Regions from separate parts of the Homo sapiens genome. Here region 2 is linked to region 1. The links come from fine-mapping of genetic effects on gene expression. Tissue or cell type: whole blood. Region 1 holds a variant in brackets; the other region holds the start of a gene. All regions are shown on one strand. Distances are from middle to middle.

Region 1 (8,104 bases):
ACTTCCAATTTACAAGCTTCCAGGTTTGAAAATACATAGATATGAACGAAGTTACCTTTCAGAGATGAGTCAACCACTGGCCCTGCAAGATCACAAGACAGTAGCTTATCACTTTCAATTTATAAGTGGAATGGAGAACAGCCTTTCCAAACATAACCTGTGAGAGGAGTTTCTGTAATCAGAAAACTGACTTGTTGGCTTGTATCCGAGAAGCCTTTCCTATCACCTTAGTATGATAGTTCTCTGGAGAGCTGTGAGGAAATCTTTCTTTTAAAGTGGCGGTCATCTTTGAAACCAAGCATGCATAAGGAAGTAGAGCACAGTACAGGAAAAGAAAGGCCCTCTGCTCTGATCACACACCACCACAACATCCTGACAGATGACCTGGCCATGCACAGCTGCCTCTCCAGGAAAATCTTCCACTCTCATCAGGGAACACTGGACTGGATAACTCAGGTATTCCTAGGTGAAGTAAGTCAGACAATATGGAAATGAAGAAATAAAAAGAGGGCTTTCAGGGCACACAGCTCAGTTTGCCAAATTCAACATGGCTACAACTGATCCCCAAATCCTGAGTAAACACCCTTGCTATTTAATAAGCACAAGCAAAAAAAAAAAAAAAAAAAAAAAATGGAATGCCTTATATGTGTCATTCCCACCCCTGCCCCAGGACATCCCCCCACCCCATCCCACACTCCCCAAAGATACCACCAGCAGGAGCTGGGCAATATGCCCAACTTTCACTTGGGAAATCCTGACAAATCAATCCGGCTCAGTAAAGCTATAAATGGATTTGGCTGGTCTCAACACAGCCCCAATGAATACAGTAGTAAAACATTACTAATAATCACAACAAAATGACAAAATCTATCATCACTCTGACATGATTCAGATCACAGAGATTAACACAGAAACCAACACACAATGGTGAGGGCCAGGGTTCTTCAATGTAGTGTGCTACTGAGCACGGGATCATCAACAAGAAAAATTATTGCCTAAGAATCTGTTGGGACACACTGGGGAGAAAATACTCTGGTCGTTCTCTGAACAACAAAAGACAAAAAACAATTTTAAAAGGCAGAGCCACAAATTAAATGGGAAGACTGCTTGTAACCAAACCCTTCTGAAGACCAGAGAGTAAAGACTTAAGAGTTCACGTTTGTAGGAAGGGGAAGGGAAGGAAGGAGGGAGGGAGAACATCTGTGGGAAAGAGATCATTTCCACTGTTGAGGGCAGAGATGATGAGGCTGGTCAGTGGAATACGTAGCTGGTCAAGACAGGGAGGAGTGTCTGTGTTAAGAGATGGACCACATCCAGCTTTTCCCTGCTGTCACAAGATTAGAAAATTCCAGCAAAGAAGTCAGCTGAAGGCCTAGTCAGAGGGAAACAGAAGAGGAGCTATTCACAGGATGAGGCTGGAGACTCTTGATTCAATGAGTCTGTTTGTACTTGGTGCCTGATGGTTGATATCCAAGGGAGAAGTTTCTAAAGCCAATATTTCTTAAAGACAAATGTTAAACAGGCAGAAAGGAAATAATAACTATATTGGTGAATTCTTCAGTCATCTCCTTTGAGGTAAAATATATCTGGATACATGGACCTAACATAGGTGGTGGTGACCACTGAACTGGCTGCCACCATAAATCTACCAAGAACTAGAGAACTGGATGTGTACACCTCTGCCTTAATGATTTTCCTCGTCTCTGCCCCAGGTTCCTTCTTCCTGTGATGGGCCATGGGAATGTGAATATGGGGGTGGGGTGGGAAGACTGCCCTTGTGAGTGACAGGGGTGGGGACTGTCCAGAGTCATAAGTGAGTGGAAGGCAACTACATTTATTAACCACTTAAAGGATTGTGATTTTGATTGTGAAGAAAATTGCTCTAAGGGCACTCCAACATTACAGACTTTGTTGAAACAAATCAAAACATTTGGAACTGAATAGCACTGAAGGGCTCAGATAAGAATGCAGGGTGTTGCCCTCCCCAGCCTTCATCCACTGTTAGGGTTATCAACAGATGGGCAGAGATCTCATCAAGATGACCCATTTTAAAAGGTCCCTGTGTCAGTGCTTTTAAAGTTTGGAAAGTTTACCCATCTGACCATAGTAATTCAATTAAGGTGTCTTTAAAGAAATAACAAATTATATGAATACCTGTTGGCAAGTTCCCCCACACCCCACTTCAAAAGACCTTTGAAAGTCCTCCTCGACAGGAAGGAACAGCCCCTGCGGGAGTCCCCTGGGGCCTGAAGGAGAGAGTGAAGTACAACGGGAGGGGCGGAACAACCAAGAAGCATACAGTGTGAGTTTTTAGAGCCTGGCTGCTTTCCCTTCAGTAATACGGAAGTTTAGGGTTTCTATTTTAATTCCACCTCTAAAACCTGAAAAAGCCTAAGAGAGAAATATACTACCTAAAGACACTAGAAATAAATATAACAGTAGCAGCGCCACACACCATTACAAGAACCAAGGTGGCCTGGACAAAATGGCAGAATTGAACTTGGTGACAAACAGAAAACTAACAGGTTTAAATCTAGGCCCAAAGGAAGTAAATTCTCACTCTTGGTGAAAAAGCAAAAGTGACATGTAAGGCAGTGGGTCTTCAGAGCAGCCAGCGGTCTTCTCCAATGACAAGAACAACTGTGGGTGGAAGATGCCTTCCTCCTGTTCCCACTGAGCTCTCCAGGACATTCTCCTGCAGTGGTAGAAATATTCTTTCAGTTTTACCACATTGCCATATAGGGTCTGGTACTGCCCTTCATGGATGCGAACTTGCCTTTATTCTCTGAAGCTTTTTTTCTCCCTTAAAGGTGTTAAAACAATGAAACCTTTGAGTGCATCCACGGCAATCTTTGTATTTCTTTAGAAACTGCAGCTGTCTTAACAGTTTGAGTCAGTCTGTTCCTTTAAAAAGACCAGCAAGTACAAATGATACTAGCAATCCCATGATAAAGAAGCTATCAATTATAATAATCCCCTTACAATCAATCATGGATGTGGCTTGTCAGAGCGGATTTTTTCTCTGTCTCCTTGTACTTTCTGATTCAATTGAGAATAAGCGTCAAAATTCCACAAAAATGGGACTATGTTACATTTCCTCTAAGCAAAATAAAAGGAAAGGAAGAGAACGTAATCTCCTAATTGAAATAAAAAGATAAACCAAAAAAGAATATGAGTCGGTGGGGGGGGGGCGGTGGGAGGCTCATTCCTGAGAATAACAAATGCTACTCTTGAATTTGTTGGTTCAAGTAATACAGTAAAACAGAAGAGACGGCTCCACTTCACTTCAATGCTTGGAAGCTGAAAAAAGTACATATATTTTTTCCCCCTGAAATCCATGGACAAAAGTGGGACCAGGCCCTGCATATAGCTCTTTAAAGTCACAGACATATATAAGGTGGCACTTTCATGCCCTCTCAAAGACTTTCCTCACACTCACATAAGCAGGATTAACAGATAAGGAAATGATGCAGTCAGCGTGTGCCTTAAGTGGAAGGAAACCAACTACAAACTGGCGGATATTCAGTATCTCCTGAATGAGAAAGGGAAAACTGAGGAAGGTCATTCAGTCTCTCTCTCTCACAGTTTTAAGTTGAATACATTTGGTGGAGGAGGATGGGTGAAGAGGTAAGGAAATGGCACCTTCCTTTTATCTTAGAAATTGTTTTCAGGTAACGGACAAAAAGAAGCCGTGCTTAACATCCAGCCCCACATGCCCCTTTAAACAAGGCTTCATTATACATAGGAGAGATGGAGCGAGGCAGAAAATCCACAGCAGTTGTGCCTCTTTCAGGCGCACCCTGTGCTGCTACATTGAAGGCTCTTTCCTCTTACCCACAGTGACAGTGTGTCATTTAATCGGGATGCCAAGAGATCATTTTCATACAAGGCCAGCAGATGTAATTTTCTTTGATGCATGAATAGTTCATCATTTTGCTACTAGATGACAAGGTGATCACAGGGTGACTTTAGAATGCAAGTTCACTGTTTGGTATTTTGAGTTCTCAAAATGAAAAAAAGATTTATCAAATATAAATATCTTTAAAAAGTAACAAAAGTGCTACATATGTGATCAAGGAAAAAAATTCCATTAGTTACTGCCGCTTAAAGTAGATTAAACTTTACAAATATTACCACATCCATTATCAATATGGCTTCCAATTATTAAATAAATTGCCTGTAGCAATACAGCTTTTCACACCTCTCCAAGGACAGAGTAAAGAGAACAGCAAAGCAGTCCCATCGTGTTCTCATACAGCCACAATGTGAGTAGGAAACGTCCCCTGCTTTTCTCTGCTCCTATCTGGGCAAGTGTCTGCATCTGTGATAAGCAGCACAACCCCACTATGAAGTCCTCTAGTGACCTCTCAGAGTGAGGGGGCTTCCGTTTAATGGATACAAACACTGCAAGTTTTTTCACTCATTTTTGACCTTAGCTCCATCCTTGAAAGACTTTTTTGGTAGCAGGGAAAGGGGACACTGACAGGAGGCAAAGCAACTTCCACGATGACCTCCAAAACTTTTCCAGGCAGGCACTGCTAACTGTGCCGTGGAATGTACAGTGGTTCTGAAAACTGGACTTAGCATCCATTAGACATTCAGCTCATATTTTTTTTTTCCAATGCTCTCAAGCTGGGTTTTTTTTTTTTTTTTTTT[TA/A]ATGACTTTTGGTTTTTGTCTTTGTTTTTAATCATGGTCCCAAAGGCAGAAGGCAGTATTTTATCTACTAAGTCACACAGCTTGTGAGAGGAAAGGATGTCTGTGTCAGGCATGTTAACTTCAAACAAAATCTGAGATCGGCTTTTTCCATTGACATTCTTAGCACAGCACCCAAAGAAGTATAATCTAGCCACAGTGTGGCTATAATGAGGCACGGCTTATTGCAGCTGGAAATCAATTATCCTCACGCTGAGGTGGGGATTCTAGTGTTCCTTTGACTCTGTGGATACTCCCCAAATGGTGTCTGTCATTCCTGTGCCACGACCTCAGCTTGCATCCTATCAGTCTTGGGGAAGGAAAAGGGAGTACAGACTAGTGTTACAAGAATCTAAAGGTACCCAAGATTTTACACGTAGTCTAATATTTGAGAACTGAGGGCTATCTAAATACCTGGAAGCACTTTCTTGGAATGCTAAGACGGAGCAGCAAGATTTTCTAGCCTCGGGGGCTGGGAGAGGGAAGTTTGGTTGGTTGGTTGGTTATTATTTACTGGGAGTTAATACTGAGAGAGTATATGCAAAGGCTGAGGGCACCATGCCATCTTCACAGAACAAGACCCTAACAGCTACCTGACATACAAGAAACTGCAAGTTATACTGTAAGAACACATGTTAAGGACCGAGGAAAGTCTGCTAAGGTGCTACGTCTAAACTAAGTTAACTTGTCATGTTTAACCTCCCTGATCAGTCATCATCCAGGGCCTCTGTCTTGATTTCGTTGGCTCCTTGTCGGGCCAATGCCAAGATAGTGTGGTTGACTGCTGCCATTTCCACAGCTAATGAGATGGGGTCTTGGTGGTCACTATGGCTCGTACTGTCATCCTAGATGTGCAGAAATAAGAAATGTTATTAGTGGATTGGAAGAATTCTTTAGTCACAGAGAGACATGCTGGGGCAAGGGGAGGCAGAACATTCGTGGGAGGAAACTGGGGGAGGGGCTCATGATAAAATAGAGGTAAATTGTATTTAAGTAGACACTGAATGGATATAGGTCCAAAGATTTTCAGTTGATAATCTTATGATTCAACAAGTAAAAAGCACAAAAAATGTTTTTCATCACTGAGAATTCTATTCATTCTATTAATAAGATTGCTGGTGATGATGATCAAACCTGCAGTGATTGATATAAAACCAACAATTTGGATCTTTCTGTTTGTAACAAATATAGCACTAATCACTGAAGGCCATACTAGTGAGCTATTAAATTCCAGATTGCTGCTCTTACAAATAGATTATTAGAATTCATGGTCCCTCTCTGAACTGAGAAAACTAGACAGAACTTACAATTACATCTTACAGATAAAAAATGCATTTTTGTAAAAAAAGAAAAAAAGAATTCTCCATTACAACAGGACACATGTCACTGCCAGAAACGGCTACGGGAGAAAGGGGAGGAAGGTGTCGAGCTCTCCTGCTGCAGGCAGCTGTGCAAGGGGAGCGGCAGGCGTCTTACCTAGAACTAGTGTGAAGCTGTCCTCCCCGCGCAGCTCAATGTGTTAAACAATAAAGCTGTGAAGGAAGCTGGCATTGCAGGATGTACGTCAGGCACTGAAGATGGTGTTACAAATAAGGGGTATGTTTCTCACCTGTCATCTTCAGGGGAACTCCGTATCAAAGAGCTTTGGAAAGGGTAAGTCCCTTAAGGAAAAAAACAAACAAAACATGGAATGTGCTGCCCTTAGGGCATCTGTAAAAAAAGATGGAAATGATCCATCTATGTGGGTAGACTGAAAAGAGGAATGTTTCCGAACAGAAAGACTTACAGAATATTCTCTTGGGGCTATTAACTAGAGTCCTAAATGGGAAAAAATGGTAGTTCTTCAGAAGTGTGGACATCATTGTTTCCTTCTGATGTTCACAGATTAGTTTTTAGAATTTACAAAGGGATCAGCACACACTTGCATGCATTCTAGGTGTGTGGTAAACAGAGGCTATTAAAGAACACATTGGACTATATGAGCTGGCTGAGGAGCAAGAAAAAAGCACAGACCCCAGAAAAATGAGCAGAAGTTTTCTTGCTGTGGTCTAGGGGAAGGTACCATGCGTTCTCTGCATATTCCAAATGGAAATTTAAATCCTATCAAAATTTTAATGAAATCTGTCAACATCTATGTGGGGGTCGAGGAGGGACTCCCACAGTCTTAGTTACTGAATTACTCCACGCAGTGGCTACAATTAAATACATTTTCCCCAAAAGCAATGCAGAATAAATCAGGGCGAGGTGAAGAGTCATGCAGGTATTGCACTTATGAGAGGATGCATGTGTCAGTGTGCCAGAGACTCTGGAAGAACCACTCCTTTGGGCAGGAGGGTTCCCACTGCAGTGGGGCCAGAGTGAGTGGGGCCTTCCATCGTGCCCTGCGTCGGTACGTGTTTAGGCATGGGGTCCAGCTGCCCCTAGTATTTCTCAAACACTGAGTGTGTGTCGTGAATGGTGTAACTTGCTTGTTTGGATCAGATCCTCCTCTCTTCTTCTACCTTCTCTGCTTCTCTGCCTCCCTCTGAACTTCTTCCCTCCTCCTCCTCCCCATTGCGTACTTGCCAAGTATCCTGTTGTATGACAATAAATCCATGTGGGTGAATAACGATCTCTCACAAATTCAACAGGACAACTGAATCTTACCACATTCCTTTCAAATTACATGAAATCTAACTAGACACAGGAGCAGAGTGGAGGGACAGTGACTGTTTCCCCTCCCCCACCCCATCAGCCACACCCAAGGAACTAAGCTGTCCCACTATACCCCCTGCTCAGGCACCAAGAACCTCGCCCAGCTGCGCAGGGGCTCACCTGCTCAGAGTAGTCATTCCCGTCGACATCATCACTGTTTGAGTGGCCTCCTGGACTCTGCACATCTATCCCATGACTCTCCAGGATTGCTGCTTCTTCGAAAAAAGCAAATAGATCCCTAAATTATCTGTTACCTTATCACAATGGCTGAAACACTGAATGAATTTTTGTGCTAAGGAAATTAATTAGAATGTAATTAAACAAGAACCTGTATTTCTCTACATTTGTTTCTTTTAGACTGTAAGATGGATGAAATTCAACTGCATGTAGGTCAGGGGAGGCACACATTTGCCATTCTGGGGTCTCTGCTGCTGTGCATGTTAGGTGCTTCATAAATACTTGCTAACTAACTAAACAGTCTTCCTATCTTGGGGTTCTATAGAGCATATGAGAACTGTACTGATGAATAAAAAGTGTATTTACAAAGGAAGGAAATGAAATGCATTCTATGCCCATACCACGCTCAATGCGCCCGATCTCGTCTGATCTTGGAAGCTAAGCAGGGTCAGGCCTGGTTAGTACTTGGATGGAAGAAATGAAATGCAATTTTAGAAGCTAAAAACCAACATCCCACCTGACTCACCAACTTAAATTTCT
Region 2 (8,104 bases), 160 kb after region 1:
CTATGAAACAAGCAATAGAATTCCAATCAACACTTGCCACAAAAATTGCCATAAGCTGGTTGCTATTTTTTAAATGATGTAACAATGACAGATTTGTTGCCACATATTTTGTAACTTAGGAACACTGAGCTATTAAGTTTCTATTAGCGATGTTTTAACTGAGGATTTGGGCTAGAAGACTGAAATCTGTTTGTACAGCAGTGAAAACGAAGCCTCACTAAAGGCATTCAACTTCCAGCTAAAGGCTCCTTTCCTTGATGCGTATTTGTGACCATACATAGTGTTCACTAAATGCAGTAAACTAAACTAGCAACAGATTAGTTAAAAGCAGCTTAGATTTTCAACTTCCCATAATACAGGCAACATCTTTAGAAGCAATCACATTAAAATAAATGTGTCTTTCACAGTTACGGGATGAAATTGTAAGCTGGACAAGCACCCATGCCCTGGTTTTCTACTTTATTTGTAAACCATATGACTCTCACATGCTGAGAATGTTTTATGCTTTAACCTGCAGTAAAGGCTTTACATCATTTTAATGCCCAGTACTTAAAATGCAACAGAATCACCCCCAACAAATGCTGGGAATATATTTGGTTTACATGTAATGATTTTGATCCCACTAGTAGCCAGAAAAAGTTTAATGAATGCTTTTTCAAGTAAATAACTTTGCACTTCTATAGACAAAACAAAAAGAAATTTTGAGGTAAGGGTAGATGGAAGAGAAAACACTCGTGTTTTTCCAATTTAAAATATTAACAAACATGTTGGTTTTTTACTTCTAAAATAATTATTAAACATTTTTTAAAAAACTCCATGACTATTATAATATGCTTCAGAAAAATAAAACAAAACACTCCGTTAAGTAGTTACGTAGGATTTTTCTCTGGTTTTTGCAAAGTAGTGTTTCAAGTTAAGATACAAGCTTAAAACAAATGATTCTGAAAATCCTGGTCTATCACAAACTAATGGCTTAGTTTTGAATCAACATATTGTATATTCTACATCTGAGATTTAGAAATCACATTTTTTTTTCTATTCAGGTCAATTGAAATATACATGCTACCTCACTCTTTCAGTCCCCCTTATCTGTGTGAATGACCAACAGCAAAAATTTTAAATCAATGGTTAGAGGACATATCATAAAATTACACACTCTATCAATGTGGTTTTCAGTTATCATAGAATCTAAAGGTCCCTTACTGATGATAGGTGGCAGATTCAAGAATTGATAAGTTTGGGGAATATATTCAATTCTCAACAGTCGAAATAGAAATTATGCCAATTTCTTTACTTTAAAAATCCGTTACACTAAAAAAATTGTCACATAAGGATTATTGAAGAACTTAATAAGGAAGTACAAAATATGACCTTAAATTCTCCTAGTGTGTTATTAAATATTAAAAACTGTGAGAAATAAGAGATGTTGCAATCCTTTCCTTTTTAACTCTAATTGAAATTTGAAAAAAAATTTAGAATTCAAATTTCCCAACTTTGACTTAGAAACATAATTCAGCTAGATCAAGCAACTTAATTGCACAATTTTAAAATAAGTTTAATGCAAAGCACTGCAATCCTGATGTGATAATTACCTGCAGCATAAATGCAAAATAATAAATGCATTTAACGATGCATTTTATGGTAAAACCACAAAAAGCACAACCATATTAGCACAAACTAAATAAAAAGACACAGGCGGTATTATGTCCAACAGAAAGAGAAATGTTGTACGAAGCCAAGAAAGAAAGGAAGGACTTAAGGAAGGAAGGAAGGAGGGAGGATAGGAAGGAAGGAAGAGGGAAGCCAGAGGTTTCTGTACCTGCAGGATACCAGAGAAATGAGCTAGTCACATCACTCTACCTTATATGATACATGGGTGATTTTTTTTAAGCTTCAGCGTAAATAAAAACAGTAATCACTTTATACCATTCAACTTTACATAGTGTTATCTTTAATGCCAACTGCATTCTTCCCTTTACTCACCCAATGCTTCTTCACTGTTCCATTCCACCAGCTTTCAGGCAAATGCAAGACAGAACAGGGTGGAGTAGAAGAAAAATACAAGCAGCGCCTTTCGGCGCACCCCCTCTCCCGCAAATAATTTCCAACAGTTCCTCCTGCTACGAAAATAAGTCGCCCTATCTCCAGATACATAACAGACATTCCGTCTCCTTAGTAGACACACACAGACGCGTACACAATCCAGCACTCCCGACCCCCACCCCAGGCCCCCCGAATCTTCAGCAATTATTCATCTAATTCACACGAAGACAAGATACCTCTACCTACTGTTTCGGGGTGAAGGTGGGTGGAGGACGCCTTTCAAAGTAGCCCCAATAGTGTAACCAAAACACGGTTCCGGAATAAAATATTAAGAAACACTTTTCCTTTCCCACCTATCTACCGACTTGAGGATGCAAAAAATCCATCTCCACATCACACCATCTCTACAGTTCTCGTGGCTGGAGTTTGGGGTGGAGATTCGTCCAGGGGAGGGGGCGGAGGCGAGTGGCAGAGTGTGAGCGGGCGACGGGACACAAGCGAGTTGTTGAGCCCGGCCGCCTCGCACCACGTCGCCAGCCCAAACGCCCAGCACCAGGACCTCACGCCCGCCCCTCAGCCCAGGCCCAGAGCGAGCGAGGACTCGCGCTGTCTAACTTCCCATCTACAGACACCGCTCCAAGACGAGCAGAGCACACAAGTACACGTCACACAGTTTAAACACACTTACACACCCCAAACAAACCAACACACCTGCAAATCACCTCACAGTTTCCAGAACTCCACACCGGAGACCCCACCTCCAGGATTCAAACCTTCCGCTCATCGTAGAGGAAACCAGAAGAGTTGGGGGGCAGTCGACGCCTTTCCAGGACCGGACCCCACGAACTGCCCCACCCCACAGCCCGCGTCTGGGTCACCCACTCGGAAGCCCCCTGCTTCCTCCCTCCTCTCAATCCGGCCGCTTACGAGACCCATCCCCAGCGTCCGCTCACTTCCTCCCCAAAACCCCTCCAAAAAAATTGTTTTAAGTGAAGAGAAAGAAGTGAGGAAAGAGACTTGAGGTAGTCCGGCTTCAAAACCGCTCGACTCACCTCAGAATCCTCGCTGAGTTCTCTCCGCCCGGCACAGCCCCCTCCCCAACGTCCCAGTACGAAGGGCTGAGATAGGGAGGAGGGAAGGCGGGAGGGGGAGGGGTGTCTTCCGCGTGGGGCGCCCGTCGGGAGGGGACTGGGGAGGGGTTGAGGCCGGCGCAGGAAGAGGAGAAGGGGGAGGGGAGGCCCCTATCTCCCAGTCTCCCCCTGAAAAACCTCCCTTGTCTCAATCACATCAGACTGACTGTCTTTGTCTGGCTGACAACCGCCATATTGATATCAACAGCCCCTCTCCCACCTGCTGCCGCCGGGCGTCCCTGGGAGTTGTAGTTCCTGCCTCCCCTGAGAAAAATTGCGGAGCCCGGCGCCTAGAGGGCCAAGGGAACTACAACTTCCGGCAAGCCCCGTGCCCATCCGCCTTCCCTTTGGGAGGAGGGAAAGGGGAGTCGGAGCCGTCGGGACTACACATCCCAGAACACCATGGGCCCCAGGCCCGTAAGGAAGACATGATATCATGCTGGGGTGGAGAGGGAGGATGCATTGGCGGCTGGGATGAATTTGAGCTGACGGAAGGAGGCGTTCGGAGAGGAAAGGGAGGAAAAGGAAAGGCGACCACAGTTCCCATGATGCCTGGAGGGGAGACTACATTTCCCATTATTCCCCTGGAAGGGACGTGAGGATGAAAGACTGCAAGTCCCGCGATGCTCTCGGCTGGCAGGTGGCGGAGATTGCACCGGAAGACGCTTCCTGGGTTTGAGGAGTTCAGTGACTGCTATTGAACCACCAAAAGTCCATTATGAAACTGGTGAGTCTTCGCTCCTAGGTCAGAGGGCAAAGGTGATGCTATAACCTTTTGGACCTCTTTTTTTCCTACGTTGGGCAGGGAATCGTCGCACGGGAGGGGTAGCAATTATTGAGCTGGAAAGTGGAGTGGGCTAAGGAAAGCTGCTTTTTGTTGTTGAGAAGGTTTGAATTCCCTCTCCCCCACCCCATCCCTCCCAGGAGGTCTTTTTTCACTCGTTAGTGGGTCTTTTTGTTCAGACAAGAGGTTGACTGTCACAGTCCTTCGCCCATGAACTCTGTGGGCTCTGTTAACCAGGTTTGGACGTCCTGGTTCCCACGTGAGGGTTATAATAGGCTGTTAACAATCCGTTTCCATTCGATTGGCGCTTGAGTATCCTGTCTCCCTACTGTTGTTGAGACTGGCTAGATTTAAGCAGACAGTAAAAAACATCCAGCAGAACGTAATCACTTATTAAATATCCTGTTATATAGACTCCTCACTGCCCTTGGAATTCAGGACGAGGTCAGAGTGTGGAGAAGTTGAGTCTTAAACCCTGCATGGGATTTAGATGGGCAGAGAAGTGTTATATGGTATTCCATTCTAAGACTGTAGGGACTTCATGAGCCAAGGCTGAATGAAGCGTGCTCGGTATACCTGAAGTCTTAACATCACACAGCTCAAGCACCTGGTTCATGGAGGCTCCTCAGACCTTTGATTTGAGCCATTTGACTCATTGTGCACACAAGTCTAACTAGTTTATTCCAACTCGATTCAATTAGTTAATAACATAGTGTAGAAAGGCAGGTGTGAAACACTGTTTCTCAACCTTTTAAAACCCATATTTGTGCAGCCAAGTTATTGTCAAGCTTTACTTGAGGCAGGAGAATCGCTTGAACCCGGGAGGCAGAGGTTGCAGTAAGCCAAGATCGCGCCACTGCACTCCAGCCTTGCAACAGCGCGAGACTCTGTCTCAAAAAAAAAAAAAGTTTATTTTTTACCATTTATATAATTATCTGAACATGCTTTGCCAAACCACACAACACACCTACCCTCATCTTGATAATCATTGTGCTACAGGCATATATTCTGCAAAGCCAGCTGTTTTCTGCGAAGTCAGAGAAAGTATTAAAAGTGGATTCAATTCCGAAATTGTCCCCGTATAAATCTGTTTATATAAGGGGAAGGATGCGGGTCACTAAACCTTGAGAATAGCAACTTACCCCTGGGTCAGTGTGTTACACATTTAATAATGCAGAATTAAAAGTCATAGCCGTTGCCCTACAGAAGCATGCAACCTAAGAAGAAGATAGAAAAGTAAACCAAAGTTATTATTTATTTATTTAGAGACAGGGTCTGGCTTTGTGGGGCCCAGACTGAAGTGCAGTGGCGCGTTCTCAGCTCGCTGCTACCTCCACCTTTCGGACTCAAGCGATCCTCTCGCCGCGTCAGTCTCCCCATATAGCTGGGAATACAGGCGCGCACCACTGCACCCTGCTTATTTTTTTTGTAGAAATGGGGTTTAACCATGTTGCCCAGGCTGGTCTCAAACTCCTGGGTTCAAGGTATCTGCCCACCTCAACCTTCCAAAGTGCTGGAATTACAGGCATGAGCCACCATGCCTGGTCCGAAATTATAATTCACTGTGTTCATGGTGAAATAGAGGCGTGTTCAGGGTTTTGGGAATTCAGAGAACAGAGGATTGGGGAGGTCAGGGGACAGCTTCCTGGAAACGTGACTCTTGAACTGATAAGGATAAGTAAGCCAGGGCCTTCCATGAAAGAGGTCAGCTTATAGGAGCATAAGAGCTTGGTACCTTATTGGCTAAAGCATGGACCCTGTGTTCTCAATAAAGAGCAAATTATATTTAATGTGTTCAGTTTAAGAAGGCAGGGAAGTGTGAAATAGTTTTTCCCATAACAACTCATTAGTGAGGGTATCAAAAAGCCAGGGTTTACTTTACATATATTTTAGTTTGCTCATAAAATCCTCCTGCTTAATTTATTTAGAAATATGAAACCGGGGATTGTAAAAAAGTGGAAAATTATTTTTTCCATTAAGAACCAAAGATGTCTCAGAGGAAAAGGAAGTATTCTATTGATACTCATACTCCCTCTTTACTTTGCAACTATGTATTACATACTAAAATTTATTTGGTAGTTGATAGATAAATGTAATTGAGAATTCCCATCAACATACCAAAAGCATTGTTGCTCAGTAAGTTAGATGGGTGTGTCATGCCTCCCAAATGGTTGGAATAAGTCCTCCCATGGCCTAAAAGTTTTAATTTTGTGTACTGCTTCAGAAATATGTAATAGGCTGTGTTTTAAATTTATAATTATGAAACAAAAACACATTTTGTTTAGCATTTTCTCATTTTTGAGATTCACTTTCCAGAGTACCCTTCCCACACACAATCTATGACCACCTCTTATTGATTCTGCTTCCTAAATGCAGCTTTCTTAAATAGGTTCTATTTCTCTCCAGTCCAACTAGAATACTGTCTTTGTAATCGGAATTCAACAAGACCCCTTATCTGGTCTCTCTGCATTCAGTCTTAACCCTCTCAAATTCATTCTTTCCTCTGCATCCGGAAGTTGTTTTAATTGCAGAGTTCCATGAAACCCTCTCAGTATCTTCCTTTGCCCTTAGGATAACCTCCTACACTTAACTTGGTTGAATATGTTCCATTGCCTGCCTCACTCTTTTTTGCCTGGCTAATTTCTTCATATATTTCAGATCTCTGTCTAAATAACACTTCTTCAGGGCCTCGTTGAATTAAGTACCCCTGTTATATATTTGATGGCATACTTCCTATTTGTAGCACTTGTAATTATTGGCGTGTGTCTGTCCTCCCCCATGTAGATTCTGTGTAAATAATTGGTAAATAATTTCTGAAGGTTTATCAAGGTCTATGGATACCCTTGAGAAAAGATTAAAGAGTGAAATTAAAGAGATTACAATAAGCAGTAACCATTGAAGTAAAAAAGGAATGATAGCTACCTTTTATAAAGCAATTATTGTGTGCCAGGCAATGTGCTAAGTATTTGCTATGTAGTTTCCCATTTAATCCTTTGATCCAGGTGACAGTATTCCCATTTTACAGACAAAAAATGTGAGCTTCAGGGAGGTGAAGTAAGTGGCTTAAAGTTAGCATGGATTAAAAATGATAGAGCCAAGATCGAAACCCAGGTTTCCCTGTTATTTAGTGAGGGTAGGAACTCTAGCACCCTGCACCATGCCTAGGTTATCTCTTAAAAAAAAAGAAGGTAGAGTGCATACAGAAAATATATTCAAGGCTATTTTTAAAAATTAGCTTTAAATGCAAGTGTGGTTCAATTAAGATCTTCAGGCCAGGTGCAGTGGTTCATGACTGTAATCCCAGCACTTTGGGAGGCGGAGGCAGGCAGATGGCTTGAGATCAGGAGTTCTAGACCAGCCTGAGCAACATGGCAAAACCTGTCTTTACAAAAGATACAAAAACTAGCTGAGCGTCGTGGCATGTGCCTGTAGTCCCAGCTACTTGAGGGGCTGAGGCAGGAGGATCACTTGCGCCTAGAAGGTTGAGGCTGGAGTGAGCTGTGATGGCACCACTGCATTACAACCTGGGTGACAAAATGAGACCCTATCTCAAAAACAAAAAACAAAAAAAAGTTTTTAAGGTTATTGGTTAAAAAAAAATTTTTTTTAAGTTTGAGGACTTTCTTGATGAGCTAAAGGCCCCCATATCAGAGCATACTAATTTGGTGCTGAAGTTAGTATTTTTTATCTTCCAAATTTAGCTCCTGTGATACCATTTATAATTCTCTAACTTTGCACATCACCCTCTTGGTGGCTTTTCACACACCCACATGAAAACAATGGATGCCATTATAACGTAATACTTGGGTATCTCCTTCTTAGATACCAACTCAGAGGATTTCAGTGGCTTTCCGTATTTATAATATGCAATATTCAGGCAGCTTTATTTAACTGAAGAAAACTCATTGGCATTTTCAGTTAACCAGAATCATTTTAGAAAGCAGAGGAAAATTAGAAATATATCTTTTAAATTAGCACATTTTAGAGCATGTTCTGTTATTTGTATAGATTGAGCCTAACTGAGTACGCTGATGGCCAGTTCAGCTAAGGATAGAAACTGGAATTCACAAAGGTCCTTACCGAAAGAACATGGAACAAAAAATTCTGAGCACGTTGACAGAAATTAAGTTTGAAACATCATGGCCAG

Evidence for each region. PIP is the estimated chance that this variant, and not a neighbour inherited with it, causes the effect.
Region 2: HMBOX1 starts here. The variant in region 1 is fine-mapped to the expression of HMBOX1 in whole blood (INTERVAL, PIP above 0.99).

Annotation. Positions count from the first base shown.
Region 1 is chr8:29,048,452-29,056,555 of GRCh38, reverse strand. It overlaps HMBOX1 (homeobox containing 1), which reads right to left. Exons shown (of 10, transcript NM_001135726.3): 9 at 7,508-7,602; 10 at 3,294-5,538. The coding sequence ends at 5,401. It also overlaps the pseudogene RNA5SP260. Among named protein-coding and RNA genes, the nearest start is that of HMBOX1, 160 kb to the right of the region's middle. RefSeq lists an enhancer at 1-85. The variant TA/A (reference allele first, on the strand shown) is at 4,657.
Region 2 is chr8:28,885,670-28,893,773 of GRCh38, reverse strand. It overlaps HMBOX1 (homeobox containing 1), which reads right to left and starts at 3,379. Exons shown (of 10, transcript NM_001135726.3): 1 at 3,096-3,379. It overlaps INTS9 (integrator complex subunit 9), which reads left to right and starts at 3,805. Exons shown (of 17, transcript NM_018250.4): 1 at 3,805-3,900. The coding sequence starts at 3,892. RefSeq lists a silencer at 3,137-3,256 and enhancers at 2,909-3,465, 3,627-3,826, 3,466-4,022.